Regions from separate parts of the Homo sapiens genome. Here regions 2 and 3 are each linked to region 1. Evidence: fine-mapped expression QTL. A gene starts in region 1. Each other region holds a variant in brackets. All regions are shown on one strand. Distances are between the middles of the regions. Region 1 holds the start of MRPL15 (mitochondrial ribosomal protein L15). Region 2 overlaps LYPLA1-TCEA1 (LYPLA1-TCEA1 readthrough). Region 3 has its middle 21 kb from the start of MRPL15.

Evidence for each region.
Region 2: its variant is fine-mapped to the expression of MRPL15 in whole blood (INTERVAL, PIP above 0.99).
Region 3: its variant is fine-mapped to the expression of MRPL15 in prefrontal cortex (BrainSeq, PIP 0.95).

What each region holds. Positions count from the first base shown.
Region 1 is chr8:54,130,317-54,138,490 of GRCh38, reverse strand. MRPL15 (mitochondrial ribosomal protein L15) reads right to left here and starts at 3,250. Exons shown (of 5, transcript NM_014175.4): 1 at 3,100-3,250; 2 at 1,826-1,980; 3 at 1,058-1,223. The coding sequence starts at 3,207.
Region 2 is chr8:54,066,085-54,074,272 of GRCh38, reverse strand. The region is part of intron 2 of LYPLA1-TCEA1 (LYPLA1-TCEA1 readthrough); the gene reads left to right. All of the region lies in intron 2 of LYPLA1 (lysophospholipase 1), which reads left to right. It also overlaps the pseudogene CRIPTOP5. Among named protein-coding and RNA genes, the nearest start is that of LYPLA1, 32 kb to the left of the region's middle. RefSeq lists an enhancer at 2,957-3,056. The variant C/G (reference allele first, on the strand shown) is at 4,835.
Region 3 is chr8:54,151,781-54,159,968 of GRCh38, reverse strand. It overlaps the pseudogene RNU6ATAC32P. Among named protein-coding and RNA genes, the nearest start is that of MRPL15, 21 kb to the right of the region's middle. The variant C/T (reference allele first, on the strand shown) is at 4,502.

The DNA of each region.
Region 1 (8,174 bases):
AAAAAATTAGCCAGACGTGGTGGCACGCACCTGTAGTCCCACCTACTCAGGAGGCTGAGGCACGAGAATAGCTTGAACCTGGGCAGCAGAGGTTGGCAGTGAGCTGAGATCGCGCCATTGTACTCCAGCCTGGGAGACAGAGTGAGACTCCATCTCTATTTAAAAAAAAAAAAAAAAAAAAAAAAAAAAGATCTTCCTGATATGTTGACATTCAAGCAGAGAACCAAAAGAAGGGGGCGCCGTGGGCGGTGGCTCACGCCTGTAATCCCAGCACTTTGGGAGGCCAAGGTGGGTGGATCACGAGGTCAGGTGTTCAAGACCAGCTTGGCCAATATGGCGAAACTCCATCTCTACTAAAAATATAAAAAATTAGCCGGGTGTGGTGGCGCACGACTATAGTCCCAGCTACTCAGGAGGCTGAGGCAGGAGAATTTCTTGAACCCAGGAGGCAGAGGTTGCAGTGAGCCGAGATCGTGCCACTGCACTCCAGCCTGGGCAACAGAGCGAGACTCCATCTCAAAAACAAAAACAAAAAAAAAAGAAGGCAAGCTTTACAGATATGCAGAAGAGCAGCATTCCAGGACCAAGGGACAGAGCCCTGCCATGATAGTATGACAGCTTTCCAAAACCACAGCTATCACCACTACATAACAGTTATAAACACAAATGGGCTAAAAATAAAGGGGGTAGAGTACTGATTATCTGGAAATCAAAAATATCTCCTACGGGCCAGGCATGGTGGCTCACACCTGTAATTCCAGCACTTTGGGAGGCCGAGGTGAGCAGATCACTTAAGGTCAGGAGTTCAAGATCAGCCTGGCCAACATAGTGAAACCCTGTCTCTACTAAAAACAAATAAAATTAGCTGGGCATGGTGGTGGGTGCCTGTAATCCCAGCTATTCAGGAGGCTGAGGCAGGAGAATCACTTGAACTTGTGAGGTGGAGGTTGCAGGAGCCGAGATTGCGCCACTGTACTCCAGCTCAGGCAACAGGGCAAGACTCTGTCTAAAAAAAAAATCCTCCTATATAACACCAAAAGATCTAATCAAGACTTACCTCCTCAACCAGCTGGACACCATAATCCCTTTTAAGTGGCTGGATGGTCACACCTCTCCCATTGACAAGCTGGGTTAAGTCAATAGGTTGACTAGGATCAACACGACCCAAATCAATAAGATACTGCAGTCTATTGAGACTCAAAGGCTTATACTGGCGTCTGAAACTGTAAAACAAGAATGTAAGAGTTGGAAAACTCTCATCTTCCTGTAACTTCTCGAAATCAACTCAAAGCTTTGTCTTGTGTTTTCCTCCACCAATTTTATTTAACTAAACAAAACCCTCTTGAGTGTAACACAAACATGTAATACTGCTTGATTTTGGGTAATGAAAACAAACCTGTACCACCTTTGTTCCACTAAAAATTATTTCCCTCTCTAAGCATTTACTTCACTTATTTACACAAATAAATCTGTGGAAAATTTAACTTACTATGGAGCTCAAAGTAATAATGGTAGTTATCATTTATTAGGTGACTACAGTGGGCCAGATTTTTATGTATACTGTCTATTATTGCTCACTCTTTTAATAACCATTAGAGCTGGCATTAGAATCTCCATTTTGCAGGTCTAAGTGCAGTGTCTGGGCCTCTTTTCCTTTTAATAATCCAGGCAAGATTTCATTACCAAAAAATGGTTCAGGGGAACAGTAGCAAAAGTTTGCTTCAAAGTGAATTTACAATTTCCACCAAAATTTCTACCAAACTATTTTTAGGTGCTTTTTAATGGAAATTGGGGACCTGTACTTTAAAAAGCAAAGCAACCTTACCTATGTCCTTCGTTAAACCCGTATTTTGGGATTCGGATGTAAAATGGAGTCTGGCCTCCCTCAAAGCCCAAGCGGGGCCGGGTTCCTCTTTGCCTTTCTCCTTTATGGCCTCTGCCACATTTTCTACCTCTTCTCCGACCTCTTGGTCTTCTCTCCTGCAAGGAAAAAAAAGAATTTTATGAATTTCAGATGCATTTCTAAAAACTGCATTTCAGCTCTTCACTTTTTGTTATGCTGTTCATTCATCCAGCCCACCAGTGCTAGCTAACACTATTGTGTCAAGCATGTCCTAGTTGCTCAAAGCTCCACACACTCTGTTAGCATCTTTGCCTCTAAAGACATAGCTAATTCTTGTAACCAAAGTCCAAGTGTGTTTCAAAAGCAAAAAGTAAAGGTTAGGATGGGGATAAGGTTTTTATAATAGGTTGAAACCGAAAAAAATCCTAGAATTAAATATTCACAACATTTTAAATGATAGGCAAGAATTTATTCTGAAATTAATTGTAAATATGCAAATGTTATTCATAAACCTGTAATTTTATTTGAAAACTGATCTGTTGAAGAAAATCTTTTCCTTAATTTCCTGTCATTTCACGAAAGCAATGAACTGACTGTTAAAATGACAGTACATTGTCAACTAACAGCTTTTCTAGCTCTATTTAGTCAACTGCAGAAGGGACAGCTGCAATTCAGATCTTTCCAATGAACATAAAGATACACCGGGAAAACATTTCATTTTAAATCCAATTTTGAATGACACAAAGACTTTGTAGTTTCAGCGAGTCGGCTTCTCCGCCTGGTATCTTTACACTTGTAAACATAACCTTATTAAGAACTGGGTGCGGCCGGGGGCGGTGGCTCACGCCTGTAATCCCAGCACTTTGGGAGGCCGAGGCAGGCGGATCGCGAGCTCAGGAGTTCAAAACCAGCCTGGCCAACACGGTGAAACCACGTCTCTACTAAAAATACAAAAATTAGCCGGGCGTGATGGCGGGCGCCTGTAATCCCAGCTAATCGGGAGGCTGAGGCAGGAGAATTGCTTCTGGGCGACAGAGCAAGCCTCCGTCTCGGAAAAAAAAAAAAAAAAAAAAAAAAGAACTGGGTGCACGTGGAAAGATTCCCCTCTGGGCAGTAAGGGAGAACAGGCATGAGGCAATCCTATTTTCATCCCAACACTCTCCTAGAAAGGGCAGTTCTCCTAATGACAGGGAGAGAAGGGCCGCTTTCATCGCCCGGGTCCCCAGCGCTTCCCCGCACCGCCACCACCCATTTACCGGTTTCTTGGAGCCGGGATTCGGCTTTAAGTTGGCCAGGCTCACACGCGGCAGGCCCCGGAGTAGGTCCAGGGCCCGGGCCCCACCGCCCTGCAAGGGACCGGCCATAACCCGCAGATCCAAGAACTTTCAAGGGCGCCCTGAGCTGCTCGGAGGCCACGTGGTCTCGGGGGCTGCTTTGTGGCCGTGGCCCCGCCCCTGTCGCGCTGCAGCCGCGCGCGCAAGCCCGGGAGTCGGGCAGAGGCGTGGGAGTCTGCAACCTTGTCTCGGTTGTCCTTTTAGTTGTTTGGGGATGTGATCTTATTTTCCGAGATCCTGCTTTGTCCTCGGGGTCCCTTTTAATATTCTGAACGTAAAACCTTCTCTTTCGCCAAACGAGAGCATGCACTAAAAACACTGCGTTAAATAAAGGATCTTTTTTGAGTCAGTGTTGGGCCTTGCCTGTTTGTCTAGGCCGTGTCTTCTCTGAGGTCAATGCAGAACCCAGAGTAAAGCAAAGTGAGCTGTCAATTATTAGCTTTTGAGCTTGCGTAATTATACACCGTGAGGTACGAAAATAAAACTGAGTGCACCTATCAAAATGCCTGGCTAATAACCAATCTTTGAATAAGACTCAAAGTGTGAACTCTCATCCGTGTGCATCTGTATTGTTTTGAGTGAATCGCAGTTAGTAACCACCTATTGTTAATGACTGGCGCCATACTGAATGCCTGGTGTATGCCAGACGCTGTATTAAATAAGCCTTACTCGATTTACAGCCATTCTAGAGGTAAATGGTGTTACTACATTTTACAGTTACAACAGGGAAGGCTTAGCAAGGTCCGATAGCTTGACCAACTTCTTGCAACAAGCGGCAGAGCCAGGATTCAAACGTACACTGCTTCCTACTATAAAAGTAGTATTTTTAGAATGTAAAATTGAGTATCTGCATCACAAAATACGAACATTATTACTCGAAAAATACCAGCTCTTCTTTTTTCTCTCAAGTGACTTAAATATAGAAAAGACTGTTCCTTTCTTTTTCTTTCTTTTAGTAGTGGTTTGACATTTCACTTGCTGGGGAGTTTTTTCTGCTAGCTCTAACTAGTAATCACAAATAATGAAGGTGAGACAATTTTTGGAGGGCGTCTGTCTCTAGGTATAACTGCGTCTTTTTAAAGTTCCTTTAAATCAAGTGTAAAATAACTACATAAAGAAAAAGTTGTATTCATTCCTTCAAGTACTATTTATAAGTAAGACACTGAACTTGTTGGAAATACACATGGATGAACTCAAATAGGATTTCATTCCCAAGTTGTTTGAAATCTAGTAGGGAACAGTTTCCAAAAGTGAATTATTATTATTATTATTTTGAGACAGAGTCTCGCTCTGTTGCTTAGGCTAGAGTGCAATGGTTCAATCTCAGCTCACTGCAACCTCTGCCTCTCTGGTTCAAGCAATTCTTCCGCCTCCGCCTCCTGAGTAGCTGGGATTACAGGCGTTCACCAGCACGCCCCGCTAATTTTTTTTTGTATGTTTAGTAGAGACGGGTTTTCGCCATGTTGGCCAGGCTGGTCTCCAACTCCTGGCCTCAGGTGATCCCCCTGCCTCGGCCTCCCAAAGTGCTGGGATTACAGGCGTGAGCCACGGCGCCTGGCCCGTGAATGTTTTTTAAAAGTTAAAGATAAAAGTAGGCCTCTTGTAGACTAATTAGCAAAAACAAAATATGTGAGTTCGATAAAATGATATGATGGTAAAGTCTAGACTCTATTTAGAAGCACAGAAGAAATAGAATGGGGTGTGGGGGGCAATAGAACCTATTTTCTGCCTTTAATGATTTTTGGTTTGTTTGTTTGAAATGGAATCTCACTCTGTCGCCCAGGCTGGAGTGCAGTAGCGCCATCTCGGCTCACTGCAGGCTCCTCACCCAGGTTCAAGCGATTCTCCTGCCTCAGCCTCCCCAGTAGCTGAGATTACAGGCATGCACCACAACGTACAGCTTTTTTAGTTTGTTTGTTTGGTTGGTTTTTTAGTAGAGACTGGGTTTCACCACGTTGGCCAGGCTTGTCTGAAACTCCTAACCTCAAATGATCCACCTGCCTTGGCCTCCCAAAGTGCTGGGATTACAGGTGTGAGCCACTGAGTCCAGCCTGCCTTTAGTGATTTTTAATTCAGTAGTTTTCATTGTGTTTTTATTAAACTTTCCTACCTTTGGGAAGAAAATTGCAAAATATAATTGCAAACTGTACCCTAATCTACAGAAAAGTGCACAATTATTTTCAATCCCCAAAAAATCATTGTTTGCATTAAGTAATGAACTTCTTGATTAAGTGTTAATGCCAGTAATGTTTTTTATCATGGAAAATTTTTTTATTGAATAAATAAAATACAAGAAATATGCTGCACTTCTTGGAAGTAGAAGTCGTATGGGTTATATAATGTTATTGGTGGACATCAGTTAATAATAATGGGAATAACAATTGTTGACAGTTAATTGTAGGCTACGTGTTTGTTTATCCCATATCCAACATGTTGATTAAGCATATAAAACTGTCAAAATAATTTGATGAGTTTCGTTTGTGTTGTAAGAATGTAAATTAAGGGTGTGTGGTCAATAAGTCAACAATCCTTACCTTAAGTATATAGTAGTTTTATGTCATCCTCATAATTGCACAAGTCATATTTATTACCCACCTACATGCTTGGGATGTGCTAAATCCTGTTTAAATCAAGTTAACAAGAACTTGTAATAAAAACATTAATATCTCAACAACTATTTAAGGTCCATCCTGATTCCAACCCCAGTTGATAATAACTGCTGAATCATTACATAATAACAATGAAGCCGGGCGCAGTGGCTCACGCCTGTAATCCCAGCACTTTGGGAAGCTAAGGCAGGCGGATCACCTGAGGCTGGGAGTTCGAGACCAGCCTGACCAACATGGAGAAACGCCATCTCTAATAAAAATACAAAATTAGCTGGGAGTGGTAGTGCATACCTGTAATCCCAGCTACTCAGGAGGCTGAGGCAGGAGAATCGCTTGAACCCCGGAGGCGGAAGTTGTGGTGAGCCAAGATCACGCCATTGCACTCCAGCCTGGGCCACAAGAGCAAAACTCTGTCTGAAAAAAAAAAAAAAAAAAGAATGAAGTGATACAATTTGAACTGCTTTGGAAGACTTCACACACTGCCACGAAATCTTCCCCAATCTATATATATATCAGCACCTGACAGTGTGTTAACATAGATTAATTCCTTTGAGTTAATTATTTTTCTAAAAAAAAGTTTTTTTGCCGGGCGCGGTGGCTCATGCCTGTAATCCCAGCTCTTTGGGAGGCCAAGGTGAGCGAATCACGAGATCAGGAGTTCGAGAACAGTGTGACCAACATAGTGAAACCCCGTCTCTACTAAAAATACAAAAATTAACCAGGCATGGTGGCATGAGCCTGTAATCCCAGCTACTCAGGAGGCTGAGACAGGAGAATTGCTTGAAATCCCAGGAGGCAGAGGTTGCAGTGAGCCAAGATCAGCCTGGGCAACAGAGCGAAACTCCATCTCAAAAAAAAAAAAGAAAATTTCAGGATTAGCAGAGAAGGGGACTGGGAAATGAAAATAAAAGGGAATAGGCTGGACACAGTGGCTCACACCTGTAATCCTAGTAAACCCAGAAATTTGGGAGGCCCAGGTGGGTGAATCACTTGAGGTCAGGAGTTTGAGACAAGCCTGGCCAACATGGTGAAACCCATGTCTACAAAAAATACAAACATTAGCTGGGCATGGTGGCAGGTGTCTGTAGTCCCAGCTACTCAGGAGGCTGAGGCAGGAGAATCACTAAAACCCAGGAGGAGGAGGTCGCAGTGAGCTGAGATTGTGCCACTGTACTCCAGCCTGGGCAACAGGGCAAGACTCCTCTCAAAAAAAAAAAGTTGAGCAGAAAATAACTGGAGAAGCAATATTCCTAAGTGAAGGTGGGAGAAAGCCAGAGGCAGGAGAACAATGAATCCCTTTGATATTGGGAGAAAACTAATATTGAGAGAAGGCTATGAAGAGGGCATGGAAAGGGGCTGGAAATAAATGTCCCCTTGATAAAACTTAACTAATTTTGCCTTGATAAAACTTGGTTCCAACCTAAAGGTCTTTATTCACACCTAAATAGGTTTTAATTTTATTGAAGTATTGTAATGCCTACATATGTTGAAAAAATCAGATAGTACAGAAGGGCTTATAATGAGAAGTAGTTGTTTCCTATTCCATTTCTAGTTTCACTCCCATAAGCAATCACTTTTAATGTTGTTTTTGTTTCTTCTAATGATTGCCTCCTTGTTTACAAATTAATAAAATGTCTACTTCACTAATTTTTTTATCATTTCTTTTTTTTTTTTTTTTGAGATGGAGTTTTGCTCTTGTCACCCAGGCTGGAGTCCAATGGCACAATCTCGACTCACTGCAACCTGCGCCTCCTGGGTTCAAGTGATTCTCCTGCCTCAGCCTCCCACGTAGCTGGGATTACAGGCACCTGCCACCATGCCTAGCTAATTTTTGTACTTTTAGTAGAGATGGGGTTTCACCTTGTTAGCCAGGCTGGTCTCCAACTCCTGAGCTCAGGTGATCCACCTGCCTTGGCCTCCCAAAGTGTTGGGATTACAGGCTTGAGCCACTGAGCCTGGCTCATTTTTTTTCCTTGAGACGACAAGTTTCGCCCTATCACCCAGGCTGGAGTGCAGTGACCTGATCACAGCTCACTGCAACCTTGAACTCCTGGGCTCAAGTGATCCTCCCACCTCAGCCACCTGAGTAGCTGGGGCTACAGGTATCCGCCACCATGCCCAACTAATTTTTGTAATTTTTGTAGAGACGGGTTTTTGCCATGTTGCCCAAGCTGGTCTTGAATTCCTGGGCTCAAGCAATCCTCCTGCCTCGGCCTCCCAAAGTGCTGGGATTACATGAATGAGCCACCACACCCAGCCTTTTATCAATTTTTAGCATTGTATATTCTCTTGTCTTATGATAAATGAAGATTTAGGTAATTTAAGCTATTTCTTCCTAAAATTTTTCTTCTCTCGTGGTAAACTTTGTAATTTAAATTATGTAATCTA
Region 2 (8,188 bases), 64 kb after region 1:
TGACTATTAAAGGCTCTGTCGCCCAGGCTGGAGTGCAGTGGCACGATCTCGGCTCACTGCAAGCTCTGCCTCCCGGGTTCCCGCCATTCTCCTATCTCAGTCTCCCAAGTAGCTGGGACTACAGGCTCCCGCCACCACACCCAGCTAATTTTTGTATTTTTAGTAGAGATGGGGTTTCACCATGTTAGCCAGGATGGTCTCAATCTCCTGACCTCGTGATCCGCCCACCTCGGCCTCCCCAAAGTGCTGGGATTACAAGCATGAGTCACCACACCTGGCTGCTTTCTTTCCTTTTAAAGAGACTATTTTAATTGATTTTGATCACCTCTACTCAAAACTATCCTAAGGTCCACATTAGGATTAGTCTCTAATAATCTGAAGATATAATTCAATTGTTTAAAAGAACATATTAAGAAGACTTTGGTAGAATTACATGTATCAAGAAACACTGGACTTGGGCACAATGGAGATATGGCTGACTTTTGAAAAAAGAAGTAGTTTTTTGGGGGAGGGCAGGGCAAAGAGGTAGGAAGTAGTTGGTACTATAAGGAAATGTTAGAGACTATTTTGGAAATGTATTCATTATTTTAAGGCAACTAACAAATGGTCATCTTTCTGTTAGGACATTGTAGCAGCAGCCTTTACTGGTCATGAAATTTGCATGATATCTAAAATTATACTTCTGTAAATAGGTCAGTGTCGATTAATAGTAACTTTGTATAGAAAAGCAGATGCCAGCTGGCATAGAAGTGGCAGTGTAGATGCTGGTAGTTCTGGAGTCCTGGAAGCTATGAGATGCCATACATCACAAGGCCATCACAGCCAGGTAGATAAATGGCTGAGGAAAGCAGCGGAGCTGGCCGTGCCAGCATTTACAAATGGAACACTTCTTGGGCAGCCAGGTGTCATGGGGCACAGACCCACAGTTCTCTTTGCACACATCATGCTCACAGTTCCGTCCATAGAAGGAGAGGGGGCAGGCACAGAAGGACCCCAGCATGCAGGTTCCCCCATTCAGACAGCAGGTTCTGTTTAGTTCCTTACTGTCCTGTATCTCCCTGGGCGGCACAAGTTGGGAAGACCGAGGATGAATTGCAGGCTCCTCCTGGGGCTGAATGCTGTCATCTCTGAAGGCCAGGTCTCCCTGAGATGGACGCGCAAGTTCCTGATGGCCCAACCCTTAACGACCTTTTTTGACTTTTTGATGATAGCCATTCTGCCTGCTGTGAGATGGTATTTTGTTGTGGTTTTGATTTGCATTTCTCTAATCATTAATGATCTTGAGCATGTTTTCATATGCTTGTTGGCCACATGTATGTCTTTTTTTTTTTTTTTTTTGATTCAGTCTTGCTCTGTCGCCAAGCTGGAGTGTTCAAGCAATTCTCCTGCCTCAGCCTCCTGAGTAGCTGGGACTACAGGCACGCACCACCACGCCTGGCTAATTTTTTGTATTTTTAGTAGAGGTAGGGTTTCACTATGTTGGCTAGGTTGGTCTCGAACTCCTGACCTCAAGTGATCCGCCCGCCTCCGCTACCCAAAGTGCTGGGATTACAGGCATGAGCCACGACCACGCCCAGCCTGTCTTTTGAAAAGTGTCTGTTCATGTTTTTTGTCTACTTTTCAATGGGGTTGTTTGATTTTTTTTTTTTTAACAGTAAAGTGGAAGCAAGTTTATTAAGAAAGTAAAGGAATAAAAGAATGGCTACACCACAGAACAGCTAGGTGGTTTGTTTTTTACTTGTAAATTTAAGTTCCTTATAGATTCTGGATATTAGACCTTTGTTGGGTGCGCAGTTTGCATATATTTTCTTCCATCTGCAGGATGTTTGTTTACTCTGTTGATAGTTTCTTTTGCTGTGCAATAGCTCCTTAGTTTAATTAGATCTCATTTGTCAATTTTTGTTTTTGTTGCAGTTGCTTTTGGCGTCTTCACCATGAAATCTTAGACAAGTCCTATGTCTAAAATGGTATTTCCTAGGTTGTCTTTCGAGTTTTTATAGTTAGGGGTTTTACATTTAAGTCTTGAATCCATCTTGAGTTGATTTTTGTATGTGGTGTTAGGTGGGGGTCCAGTTTCTATCATCTGCATATGGTCACCCAGTTATCCTGGCACTTTTTATTGACTGGGGAGTCCTTTTTCCCATTGCTTGTTTTTGTCAGCTTTGTTGAGTATCAAATAGTTGTAGGTGTGTGACCTTACTTCTGTGCTGTCTATTCTGTTTGATTGGTCTATGTGTCTGTTTTTGTACCAGTACCATGCTGTTTTGGTTATTGTACCCCTGTAGCATAGTTTGAAGTCCAGTAACATGATGCCTCCAGCTTTGTTCTTTTTGCTTAGGATTGCCTTGTCTGTTTGGGCTCTTTTTTTGGTTCCATGTGAATTTTAAAACATTTTTTCCTAATTCCGTGAAGAATGTCATTGGTAGTTTGATAGGAATAGCATTGAATCTGTAGATTGCTTTGGGCAGTATGGCCATTTAACAGTATTGATTCTTCCTATCCATGAGCATGGAATGCATTTCCACTTGTTTGTGTCATCTCTGATTTCTTTGAGCAGCGTTTTGTAATTCTTGTTGTAGAGATCTTTCACCTCCCTGGTTAGCTGTATTCCTAGGTATTTTATTCTTTTTGTGGCAATTGTAACTCACACTTTTAAAATAAAATGTGTGCTTTTTGTACAAAAAAATCTCATATCGCTGTCATGGAGCTTCCTTGGTTCATCTTTTACTGCGTGTGTTCCATTGTGTGTGCACTCAGTCCTGTGTGTGCTTGTCCACGCCCCCACCCTGTATATATATGTACGTATATATAGATGAGTCTTTTTTTAACTCTTGAGATAAACCTGCAAACATGTTCCTATCACCTCTAAATACTCTCATGTGTATTTCCCATGCACAAGGATACTTGTACATAACCAACATACAACACTCCAAATTAGGAGATGAGCATTGATTAAACACTATATCCAGTCCACAGACTCCATTGAAGTTTTGCCAGCTTTCTCAGCTGTGTCCGTTTCCTTTCTGGCCTGAGATCCTTTCCAGGAGTATGTGTTCATTTGAGCTGTCATGTCTTGAGTCTGAAACTGTTTATCAGTTCTTCTTTCATTTCCTTTGCAGTTTTAAAGCATATAGCCACAGCCTTCAGTTCTGCATATTCTGCAGAGTGACTCTTCAACTTGAGTCTGTCTAATGGTTCCTCATGACTGGGTCCAGTCATGCATTCTTCGTCTTTATTTTTGGTACCAGTTTTATTGACATATAATTCATATACCACACAATTCACTCATTTAAAGTGTGTAATTTGATGGTTTTAGATGTATTCACCGTAAGTTTTGCAACCATCACCACAGTCAATTTTAGAACATTTTCATTGCCTCAAAAAGAAACCCTATACTCTTTCATTTGTGTTCTATTGTAACTGGCTTCTTTCACTTAACATTGTTTTCAAGGCTCATCCGTGCTATAGCATGTCAGTACTTCCTTCTCATTGTTGAATCATACTCCGTTGTATGGCTGTGCCTCATTTTATTTTATTTTATTCTTTATTTGAGATGGAGTCTCGCTCTGCCGCCCAGGCTGGAGTACAGTGGTGTGATCTCAGCTCACTGCAACCTCCTCCTCCCGGGTTTGAGTGATTCTTCTACCTCAGTCTCCCCAGTCGCTGGTACTACAGGCATGCGCCATCAAGCCTGGCTAATTTTTGTATTTTTAGTAGAGACAGGTTTCACCATGTTGACCAGGCTGGTCTCGAACCCCTGACCTCAGGTGATCTGCCAGCCTTGGCCTCCCCAAAGTGCTGGGATTACCGTATGAGCCACCACGCCTGGCCTCATTTTGTTTATTCATCCATCATTTGATGGACATTTGGGTTGTTTGCACCTTGAAGTTGCGTAATACTGCTAAAAAAGAACATTTGTGTACAAGTTTTTTGTTGTTGTGTTTTTGTTTTTGTTTTGAGATGGAGTTTCACTCTTGTTGCCCAGGCTGGACTGCAGTGGCACGATCTCGGCTCACCGCAACTTCCGCCTCCCGGGTTCCAGCAATTCTCCTGCCTCAGCCTCCCGAGTAGCTGGGTTTACAGGCATGAGCCACCACATCTGTACTGGACATATTTTTTCACTATTCTTCGGTATAGACCTAGGAATAGAATTGCTGGATATGGTAACTTCATATTTATCCTTTTGAGAACCTAAAGGTTATCTAAAGTCGCTGCACCATTTACATTTCTACCAACAGTGTATGAGGGTTCTGATTTCTCACCATACCCTTTAACACTTGGCTATTATTTGTCATTTTTACGATAACCATTCCGGTAGGTATGAAGTGGTATCTCACAGTGGTTTTGGTTTGCATTTTCTAATGACTAATGATGTTGAGCATCTTTTCATGGTGTATTAACCATTCATTTGTCTGAGAAATGTCTATTCAAGTCTTTTGCCTATTTTTTTATTGAGATGTCTTTTTTGTTTAATTCGAGGTAAAATTCACATGACATAAAACTAACCCTTTTAATGTGAACAATTCATGACATTTAGTATATTCCTTTTTTTTTTTTTTAAACGAGACAGAGTCTCACTCTGTCGCCCAGGCTGGAGTGGAGTGGCACAATCTCAGCTCATTGCAATCTCTGCCTCCCAGGTTCAAATGATTCTCCAGCCTCAGCTTCTGAGTAGCTGGGACTACAGGTGCGCACCACGCCCAGCTAATTTTCATAGATTTAGTAGAGACGGGGTTTCACCATGTTGGCCAAGCAGGTCTTGAACTCCTGGACTCAAGGGATCTGCCCGCCTTGGCCTCCCAAAGTGCTGGGATTACAGGCATGAGCCACCATG[C/G]CTGGCCAAAGTTTTTTTTAAAGTATTTTTTCTTTTCCTTTTACTTTTAGTTGATACATAATTGTTCATATTTATGGGATACTGAGTGATATATTTTGATACATGTATACAACATGTAAGAATCAAATCAGGGTAATTAGCATATCCATCACCTCAAACATTTATCGTTTCTTTGCATTGTGAACATTCAACACCCTTTCTTCTAGCATTTTGAAAATATACACTGAATTGTAGTTAACCATATTCACTCAACAGTGCTACAGAACACCAGAATTTATTCCTTTCATCATTATATTGATAGCCATCCTAGTGAGTATGAAGTGATGTATCATTGGGGCTTTGATTTATGTTTCCTTAATGACTAATGATGTTCAGCATCTTTTCCTGTGCTTTTTGGCCATTTGTATATCTTCTTTGGACAAACATCTCATCAAGTCTTTTGCATATTTTTTAATTGGGTTGTCTTTTTGTTTGTGAGTTGCAAGTTTTTTTTATTATGGATACTAGACACTTTAATTAGATGTGATTTGCAAACATTTTTCCCACTATGTAAGTTGTCTTTTCATTTTCTTCATAGTGTCCTTTGAAACACAACAGTTAATTTTGATGATTTCTAATTTATCTATTTTTTTCTTGTCGGTTGTGCTTTTGATGTTATATCTAAGAAATTGCCAGATCTGAGGTCACAAAGATGTATGTGTGTTTTCTTCTAGTTTTATAGTTTTATCTCTTACATTTAGGTATTTGGTCAGTGTTTACATATGGTATGAGGTAGCAGTCCAACTTCTTTGTATTACATGTGGATATCCACTTGTCCCAGCTACTTTTGTTAAAAAGACTATTCCTTCCCTGTTGATTTGTTTCAGAAATAAGTTTGACAGTAAATGTGAGGTTTTATTTCTGGATTTTCGGTTGATTTATATGTCTGTCTGTACTCTAGTACTAGTCTTTCTGAATGTTACTTGGTAGGAATTTTTGAGATTAAGAAGTGTGAGTCCTCTAATTTTGTTCTTTTTCAAGATTTTTGTTGTTGTTGTTATTCTGGGTCTCTTGAGTTTCCATACAAATTTTAGATCGGGTTCTAATATGTGCAAAGTCAGGTGGTATTCTGTTAAAGATTGCATTGACTCCATAGATCAATTTGAGAGTACTGCCGTCTTTAAAATATTATATCTCCCAGTCCATGAAAGTGGGATATCCTTCCATTTATATAGATTTTCTTGTATTTCTTAATATGTTTTATAGTTTTCAGAAAAAAGTCTTTAACATAGCTATTTACACATATACACATGTGCATATACACAAAACTCCTATATAATATCCTGGTTATAGTTAATGTTATGTAAGTATTGCAGTTAATACTGTTGTTACTAATCTTTTTATATGTCTTTAACACTTTGGGGGAAGTGGGTTGAAATAGAAAAATAGTTAATAGAAAAGTATTTAACAGGGGGCTGGGCATGGTGGCTCACGCCTGTAATTCCAGCACTTTGGGAGGCTGAGGCAGACGGATCATGAGGTCAGGAGATCAAGACCATCCTGGCTAACACAGTAAAACCCCGTCTCTACTAAAAATACAAAAAAAAAATTTAGCTGGTGTGGTGGCGGGCGCCTACTCGGGAGGCTGAGGCAGGAGAATGGTGTGAGCCCGGGAGGTGGGGCTTGCAGTGAGCCGAGATCGCGCCACTGCACTCCAGCCTGGGCAACAGAGCAAGACTCTGTCTCAAAAAAAAAAAAAAAAAAAATTAACATTCATCAAGACTCTTTGATGTAAGAAAGGCTGAAATTACTGGTACTTTATTCTTTAGTAGAGATAATATGTAAAAAGCATCAAGTATATGGCCAAATGTAAATAAGCAGGAAACTATATGTATAACATGATCCCTGTTTTGTAAAATGTGCATCTATTCCTTAATTGACATGCATGGGAAAAATCAGAAGGAAATGCATCAGAAAATTAACTGTTTATTCCTGGCTAGAAGGATTTGATTATTTATAATTTTTCAATTATTCCATGTTCTGCTTTGAACGTGTATGTATGTGAACATGTACGCATGAAGAAATATTAAAGTTGCTGGATTAAAAAATTTTTTTTTCTTAAGTTTTCTGTAGAGTGGGTCTTACTATATTGTTTAGGCTGGTCTTAAACTCCTGGTCTCAAGCTGTCCTCCTACCTCAGCCTCTCAAAGTGCTGGGATTATAGACATGAGCCACCATGCTCAGCGAAAGTTGCTGTTTTTATTTTATTTACTCACTTATTTATTTATTTTGAGATGGAGTCTCACTCTGTTGCCCAGGCTGGGGTGCAGTGGTCTAGTCTTGGCTCACTGCAACCTCTGCCTCCTGGTTCAAGCGATTCTCCTGCCTCAGCCTCCTGAGTAGCTGGGATTACAGGCAATGCACAAAAACGCCCAGCTAGTTTTTGTATTTTTAGTAGAGACAGGGTTTCACCATGTTGGCCAGGCTGGTCTCGAACTCTGGACTCAAGTGATCCGCATGCTTCAGTCTCCCAAAGTGCTTGTAAGCATGAGCCACTGTGCCCAGGTGAAAGTTACTGTTTTTAAATAGTGTAGTAAGCATGTAGAGATGTTAGACAACTGATTTAGTTTATTTATCTGAGGCTTTTTTCTTTTTCTTTTTTTTCTTTTCTTTTTTTTTGAGATGGAGTCTCGCTCTGTTGCCCAGGCTGGAGTGCAGTGGCGTGATCTCGGCTCACTGCAGCCTCCACCTCCTGGGTTCAAGCAATTCTCCTGCCTCAGCCTCCTGAGTAGCTGGGACTACAGGTGCACACCACCATGCCTGGCTAATTTTTGTATTTTTAGTAGAGATGGGGTTTCACTATGTTGGGCAGGCTTGTCTTGAACTCCTGACCTCAGGTGATCTTCCTGCCTCACCCTCCCAAAGTGCTAGGATTACAGGCGTGAGCCACTGCACCCGGCCAAGGCTTTTTTTCTTTGTGTAAAATGTTAATTATTTCTCTTGCCTACTTTATAAACACATTGTATAAAGACATTTTAAAAATATATCTATAGTTTGGAAGTTGTGAAGCCCTGTGGAAATATCTGAAGGGGCACACACTGCTGTTCAGAAATCTGAGAAATCATCCTTATCCCTAGGTAAAACTTAACAGCTGCTGGGTTCTTTTTAGATTCATGGTGTTGTTTTAATAGTATTGAGGGCCCACATTTTAAAGATATTTTTAGGCCGGGTGTGATGGCTCACGCCTGTATTCCCAGCACTTTGGGAGGCCGAGGCGAGCGGATCACGAGGTCAGGAGATCAAGACCATCCTGGCTAACATGGTGAAACCCCGTCTCTACTAAAAATTAGAAAAAATTAGCCGGGCGTGGTGGCG
Region 3 (8,188 bases), 21 kb before region 1:
ACCATATCACCATGTAATTCCATTCCCCAGCATATACCCTAGATAACTGAAACCGGGGACTCATTTCTTGCACTCTAATGTGCACAGCAGCTTTATTCACAATAACTCAAAGGTAGAAACAGGCCAAATGTTCATCAACAAATGAGTGGATAAACAGTTGTCATATATACATGCAATGGAATATTATTTAGCCATCAAAAGGAATGAAGTACTGGTTCATGCTACAACATTGGATGAACCTTGAAAATATATTAAGTGAAGGAAGCCAGACACAAAAGACCACATAGTGTATGATTTCATTTACATAACATATCCAAAATAGATAATTCTGTAGAGATAGAAAGCAGATTAATAGGCTGGGAGTGGTGGCTCATGCCTGTAATCCTAGCACTTTGGGAGGCTGAGGCGGGTGGATCATCTGAGGTCAGGAGTTCGAGACCAAATTGGCCAACATGGTGAAACCCCATCTTTACTAATAATACAAAAATTAGCTGGGCGTGGTGGCAGGCACCTGTAATCCCAGCTACTTGGGAGGCTGAGGCAGGAGGCAGGAGAATTGCTTGAACCCAGGAGGCAGAGGTTGCGGCGAGCTGAGATCACGCCATTGCACTCCAGCCTGGGTGACAAGAGTGAAACTCCGTCTCCAAAAAAAAAAAAAAAGAGAAAGAAAGCAGATTAGTAGTTCCCAGGGGCTGGAGGCAGGGAGAGATGAATACAGACTGCTTAATGGCTATTAGTTTCCTTTTGGTGTGATGAAATGCTTTGGAACTAGATGGAGGAGGTGGTTGCACAACACTGAGAATGTATGACATTCTGCTGAATTGTTTTCAGTTGTCAACTTTATGGTATATGAATTTCACCCCAAGGTTTAAAAAACTTCTGTGAAGATGAAATGTCTTTTACCTTGTTTCCTACAGCCTTTCTTTGCTTTTTTGTTCCAAAAAGGTCTTTGAGATCTCTGTAACGCAATGCTTCCTTCAGGCACAGCATCCTGATGCACGCTGCTCCCTTTGCACAGAAGGATTGCTCTCATCGCCTCACTGGGCTCACTCTCAACCCTTGTTTTGTCACTTCTAAAGGAATCCTTCCCTGATTTCACTTACTAAATCAGATTACCTTCTTGTATGCAGTCGTGTCCCACATAAACACCATTTCCAGCACTTATCTTCATTGCAATTTTATATTCATTTGCGTGAACAACTCTGCTTTTAGACTATCAACTGCATGAGGGCAAAGACCATGTATTTTATTCAGCATGGAAGACCCAGAGTTTGGGACTTAGGAGGTACTCAATAAACAAGCCTTGGAATGATTAATCAAATAAATATTTGAAAATTATCTGCACAGTGCCTTGTAGGCCAAGCAGGGCAGATAATCTGAGGTCAGGAGTTGGAGATCAGCCTGGCCAACATAGTGAGGCCCTGTCTCTAATAAATATATAAAAATTAGCGGGGTGTGGTGGCACACACCTGTAATCCCAGCTGCTCTGAAGGCTGAGCCAAGAGAACTGCTTGAACTTGGAAGGCAGAGGTTGCAGTGAGCTGAGATCGAGCCACTTGCACTCCAGCCTGGGCAACAGTGTGAGACTCTATCTCAAAAAAAAAAAAAAACAGTTCAAACATAGAATAACCATATGACCCAGCAATTCCACTCCTAGGTATATACCCAAAAGAATTGAAAGCAAGAATTCATGGCCAGGTGCGGTGGCTCATGCCTGTAATCCCAACATTTTGGGAGGCCGAGTCGGGGGATCACCTGAGGTCAGGAGTTCGAGACCAGCCTGGCCAACATGGTAAAACCCTATCTCTACTGGAAAAACACAGAAAATATTAGCCGGGCATGGCAGCACATACCTGTAATCCCAGCTACTCGGGAGGCTGAGGTAGGAGAATCGCTTGAACCTGGGAGCTGGAGGTTGCAGCAAGCCGAGATTGCACCACTGCACTCCAGCCTGGGTGACAGAGTGAGACTCCATCAAAAAAAAAAAAAGCAAGAACTCAAACTTGAAAACCAATGTTCAGGGCAACATCAACCACAGCAGCCAAAAGATGGAAACAACCCAAATGTCCCTCAACAGAGGAGTGAATAAATAGAATCTGGTATATACATACGATGGAATATTATTCAGTCTTAAAACGGAAGGAAATTCTGACAGGTGCTCAAGATGAATGAAGCATGAGACATTATGCTAAATGAAATAAGCCAGTCACAGAAGGACAAATACTTCTGATTCCACTTAAATAAGGTATCTAAAGTAGTCAAATTCATTGAAAAGGAAAGATGAATGGTGGTTGCCAGGGACTGGGGGAGGGGAGGAAGAAATAGGGAGTTGTTGGCTGGGTGCGGTGACTCACGCCTGTAATCCCAGCACTTTGGGAGGCTGAGGCAGGTGGATCGCCTGAGGTCAAGAGTTCAAGACCAGCCTGGCCGACATGTTGAGAACCCCGTCTCTACTGAAAATACAAAAAATTAGCCAGGCATGGTGGCGGGCGCCTGTAATCTCAGCTACTAGGAGGATGAGACCAGAGAATCACTTGCACCAGGAGGCGGAGGTTGCAGTGAGCCGAGATCGTGCCATTGCACTCCAGCCTGGGCGACAGGGCGAGAATCCGTCTCAAAAACAAAAAAAAGAAAAAGAAAAAGAAAAAGAAAAAGAAAGAAATAGGGAGTTGTTTGTTTAAAGGGGTATAGAGTTTCCATCTTGCAGAGTTTCCATCTTGCAAGATGAAAAAGTTCTGGATATCTACTGCACAACAGTGTGAACATACTTAACACTATTGAACTGCACACTTAAAAATGGTTAAGATGATATTTTTTGTGTGATTTTGTTTGTTTGTTTTGAGACAGAGTCTCCTTCTGTCTCTCAGGCTGGAGTGCAGTGATGCAATCTTGGCTCACTGCAACCTCCACCTCCCAAGTTCAAGGGATTTTCCCGCCTCAGCTTCCCAAGTAGCTGGGATTACAGGCGCCCGCCACCATGCCCAGCTAATTTTTGTATTTATAGTAGAGACGGGGTTTTGCCATGTTGGCCAGGCTGGTTTTGAATTCCTGACCTCAGGTAATCTGCCTGCCTCAGCCTCCCAAAGTGCTGGGATTACAGGCATGAACCACCACATCCGGCCTTGTGTGATATGTATTGTACCACAATTAAAATTTTTTTAAATTTAAGAATGAAATTTTGATACATGCTGTCATATGGATGAACCACATGAACTAGGTAAAACAGGCCAGACACAAAAGGACAAATATCATATGGTGCCACTTATATGAGATACATAGAATAGACAAATTCATAGACAGAAAGTAGAATAATATAGTTACAAAGGGCTGGGGCAGGAGAAAATGGAGAGTTACAGTTTAATTGAATGGAGTTTAGGTTTGGAATGATGAAAAAGTTCTGGAAATGGATAGCAGTGATTGTTGCATAACCTTGTGAATGCACTTAATGTATATCATGCACTTAAAGCGACTTAATGTACACTTACGAACGGTTGAAATTGTACATTTTGTGTCATGTAAATGTTACTATAATAAAAACATTTAAATCATTTTAATGTACTATGTGTATATAACAACTGTTTGTCTAGTATCCAAGAACATAGGCCAGGTGCAGTGACTCACACCTGTAATCCCAGCACTTTGGGAGGCTGAGGCGGGCGGATAACCTGAGGTCAAGAGTTCGAGACCAGCCTGACCAACAAGGTGAAACCCCCATCTCCACTAAAAATACAAAATTATCCAGGCATGGTGCATGCCTGTAATCCCAGGTACTTGGGAGGCTGAGGCAGGAGAATCGCTTGAACCTGGGAGGCAGAGGTTGCAGTGAGCGGAGATCGTGCCACTGCACTCCAGCCTGGGCAACAAGAGTGAAACTTCGTCTCAAAAAAAAAAAAAAAGAACATTGTCTCTGGAGCCAGTTGACTTGGGTTTAAATCTTAGCCCTAATACTTCTTTCGAGCTAGATGTCCTCATACTAAATACTTGACCTCTCTGTGCCTCAATTTTTTTCAACTATAAAATGGCATAAATAAAAGGGTCTGGTGAGGATTGAATAAGATGAACAGATAAAGCTTTTAAAAACTCCTATATATATGGATGCTCGATAATCATCAGAATTATCTTTATAAAATTTCAAGTACATAGAAGAATATGAAGTCTCTTACATACAAATGGCCAAGAAGCTATTCTCATTCCACATGTTCCACATCATTATTAGTGAAATGCAAATCAAACCCACAATGAGAAACCATTTCGTGCCCACTAGAATGGTTATCATCAAAAATGCAGATAATAACAAATGTTGGCAAGGATGTGAGAAACAGGAACATTCATTTCTTGTGGGGGAGTAACATGGTGCAGCCACTTAGGAAAACAATTTGGCAGTTTCTTTAAAAGTCAAACATGGGCCAGGCATGGTGGCTCACACCTGTAATCCCAGCACTTTGGGAGGCTGAGGCAGGTGGATCACTTGAGGCCAGGTGTTCGAGACCAGCCTAGGCAA[C/T]ATAGTGAAACCCCATTTCTACTAAAAATACAAAAAAATTACGTGGGCTATGGAGGTGCGCACCTGTAATCCCAGGTACTCAGGAGACTGAGACACGAGAATCGCTTGAACCCGGGAGGCAGAGGTTGCAGTGAGCCAAGATGGTGCCACTGCACTCCAGCCTGGGTGACACAGTGAGACACTGTCTCAAAAAAAAAAAAAAAAGTTAAACATAAATTTGCTAATCTACTCAGCAATTCCACTGCTAAATATATTCCCAAGAAAAAGAAAAACATGTTCACATAAAGACTTGCAAACATATGTTTACAGTAGCATTATTTATAATAGCCCCACCATGGAAACAATCCACATGTCCACCAACTGATGAATGCATACACACTCCACACGATGGAAAGCTAGTTGGCCATAAAAAAGAATGAGGTACTGGAACATGCCACCACATGGATAACTTTCAAAACATTATGCCAAGTGAGGTCGAGCATGGTGGCTCACGCCCATAATGCCAGCACTTTGGGAGGCTGAGGCAGGTGGATCATGTAAGGTCAGGAGTTCAAGACCAGCCTGACCAAAATGGTGAAACCCTGTCTCTACTAAAAATATAAAATTAGACGGGTGTGGTGGCAGGTGCCTATAATCCCAGCTACTCAGGAGGCTGAGGCAGGATAATCACTTGAATCCAGGAGGCGGAGCTTGCAGTGAGCTGAGATCACACCACTGCACTCCAGCCTGGCGACAGAGCGAGACTCTGTCTCAAAAAAAAAAACTTGATTTATGAACACTTACAGAGGCACTTATGTGTCAGGCATTATGGTAAGTGCTTTACAAATATTGACTTCTTTCAATCTTCATACCCATATGCATTAGGATTAATCATCCCCCATTTTTCAGATGGTGAGACTGAGGCAGAGATATTAAGTAACATATCAAGGTCACACAGCTAGTCTTGGCATCTGAGCCCAAGTAAACTGCTCCAGGTGGCTCTGCAAACTGGCTGAGCTTCGTGTCTCCCCGCAAATAACCTCACTGGGTCTCCCAAACACAGAAGCACAGAGGTGGGTATGATTATCTCCATTTCACATGTGAGACAGATGAGAGCACAGCAGTTATGTGATGTGCCCGAGGTCACACAGCTGCTGTCAGAGCCTGGATTCAAATCCAGGTTTGGTGACATGGAAGCTGTGCTACTTCAACCATGCTATGTCTTTTCAGTAAAGCATCAAAATGCAGCCATTCTGGGATCTGTGCGAACATCAGAGAGCGCACTTTTTTCTCTGACACGAACTAAATTGGGTTACACTGCTGTTATCTGACATCTTCCCCGGCTATGGTAGAGCCACTCTCATTGTCAAAGAACAGAGAGTAGCATTTTTAAAAAAGAAAACCCGGGAACTCAATAGACAGGAAATCCCTAGCAATTATTTCTCTAAGGAGTTAAAAAAATATTTTAAAATCCATATTAACTCAATGGATTGGATGCAAACTAGCCACATATACTGGAAGCCACATACCACGAGAGGACTAAAATCTAGACTGAAGCATTCTTACTTTTATTCTTAGATTTCCAAGTAATATGAACCCTTAACAAGATAACAATACCATCTGCTAGCACACTCTCTGCCCCATTATCCTTGTACACGGCTGAAGGGCCATGGTATATCAGCATCATAGAGCCCAGTATTGCTGCGTAGTTACAATGAACTTGAGTCTCCCGGCTATACAGCAATTTGAGGATTAACTTTATTAAACAGAATAGACAGATTTTGTGGAACGTGCCTGTTTTGGCTGAGAACTTATCTGCACGATTCTAATATTGAGACCAGGATACAGCTGTTTGTGACTAAGCCCATGCTCACTGAGTAAGTACTATCTGAGCATTATTCATCACCAGACATCTGTTTCCTGTTTTCTTTCTTTCCTTTATCATTCTTTCCCAATTTCCTTTCACCTGTAGGCCACCTAAGACAACCACAGTGAAGTAAGTCTAATGTTTGACTGTCTCTTTTCCCTTCCGTAACTGTTGTTAGGGTAGTGTAGTCATTCTACTTGGAGGATGGGGGAGGGAACCCAAGGGTCACTCTGAGCCTGGAAGGCTGTTGCCTGTGCAGTCTATCTTTAGGTGACTAACTTCCTCCCTTGTTCCCCATTAAGAACTTTTCCTGTTGAGGCAGTACCAGCCCCTCCAAACATACAATTGTGAACTGAATCACAAATGGAAAACCTCCTGTGGCACAAATAAGGCAAGGCAGTAACTTACCTAAAGCAAAGCCAGTACACTCTGATATGAAAAAAATGGAACCTCTTACATGAATACAGAACACAGGATGTGTTTAAATTTAAGGAAGTTCATTTCTATGCAAATAGGTTGAGGTCAGAGAAGTTTTCCTCAGCCCAAGGGAACATCTTTATCATCAGTGTATTACAACAGACTTTAGAGGTCATTTTACACAGTCCTCATATTTTACAAAGCTTGTCATTGTATTTTACAGTCTAAAAGATGAAGTGATTTGTCTAATAGATTCCATTTTAAATGGCTTAAGAATAAGAGAGCGCAATTTAAATACCCCAATAATGAATATTCAGAAAATGTGTTGTATGAAAGGAGAGAAGGTTAGCCCTCCCCTTAACAAACACAGAGTTCCTGGCATCTCACTATGTTTTTATCTTCATCTCACTGTACTCTAAGAATTCTTCTTTTTTTTTTTTAATTTCAGCTCACTGCAACCTCCATCTCCCAAGTTCAAGTGACTCTCCCACCTCAACCTCCCAAAGTAGCTGGGATTATAGGCACGCACCACCACACCCGGCTAATTTTTGTATTTTTAGTAGAGACGGGTGTTTCACCATGTTGGCCAGGCTGGTCTCGAACCCCTGACCTCAGAGGTGATCCGCCCACCTCTGCCTTCCAAAGTGCTGGGATTACAGGCGTGAGCCACCACGCCTGGCCAAAAACACATTCTTTGTACCTTGGCGCTTTTCTTAGCAACCTTCTTTGTATCTTATCCTCTCTTTTCCTCCCTATGTTATATGCAAATAGGACTTTTGAAATATTTAAGGCCGGGCATGGTGGCTCACGCCTGTAATCCCAGCACTTTGGGAGGCTGAGGCGGGCGGATCACGAGGTCAGGAAATCGAGACTATCCTGGCTAACATGGTGATACCCCGTCTCTACTAAAAATACAAAAACAAAACAAACAAACAAACAAAAATTAGCCGGGCGTGGTGGCGGGCGCCTATAGTCCCAGCTACTCGGGAGGCTGAGGCAGGAGAATGGCATGAACCTGGGGAGGTGGAGCTTGCAGTGAGCTGAGATTGCGCCACTGCACTCCAGCCTGGGCGACAGAGCGAGACTCCGTCTCAAAAAAAAAAAAAAAAAAAAAGACACTTTGTAAAATATTTAACATAGGAAGATGGCTTTATTATTAAAAATGTTTATTAAAAGCAGGCATAGAACAAAGTGAATGCTTCTTCTCAGATGGTTTCCTGTGCTTTGTCATTGTTACGGGAAAGGGGTCCCGATCCAGACCCCAAGAGGTTCTTGAATCTTGGGCAAGAAAGAATTTGGGGTGAGTCAATCCATAAAGTGAAAGCAAGTTTATTAAGAAAGTAAAGGAGGCTGGGTGCGGTGGCTCATGCCTGTAATCCCAGCACTTTGGGAGGCCGAGGCAAGCGGATCACAAGGTCAGGAGA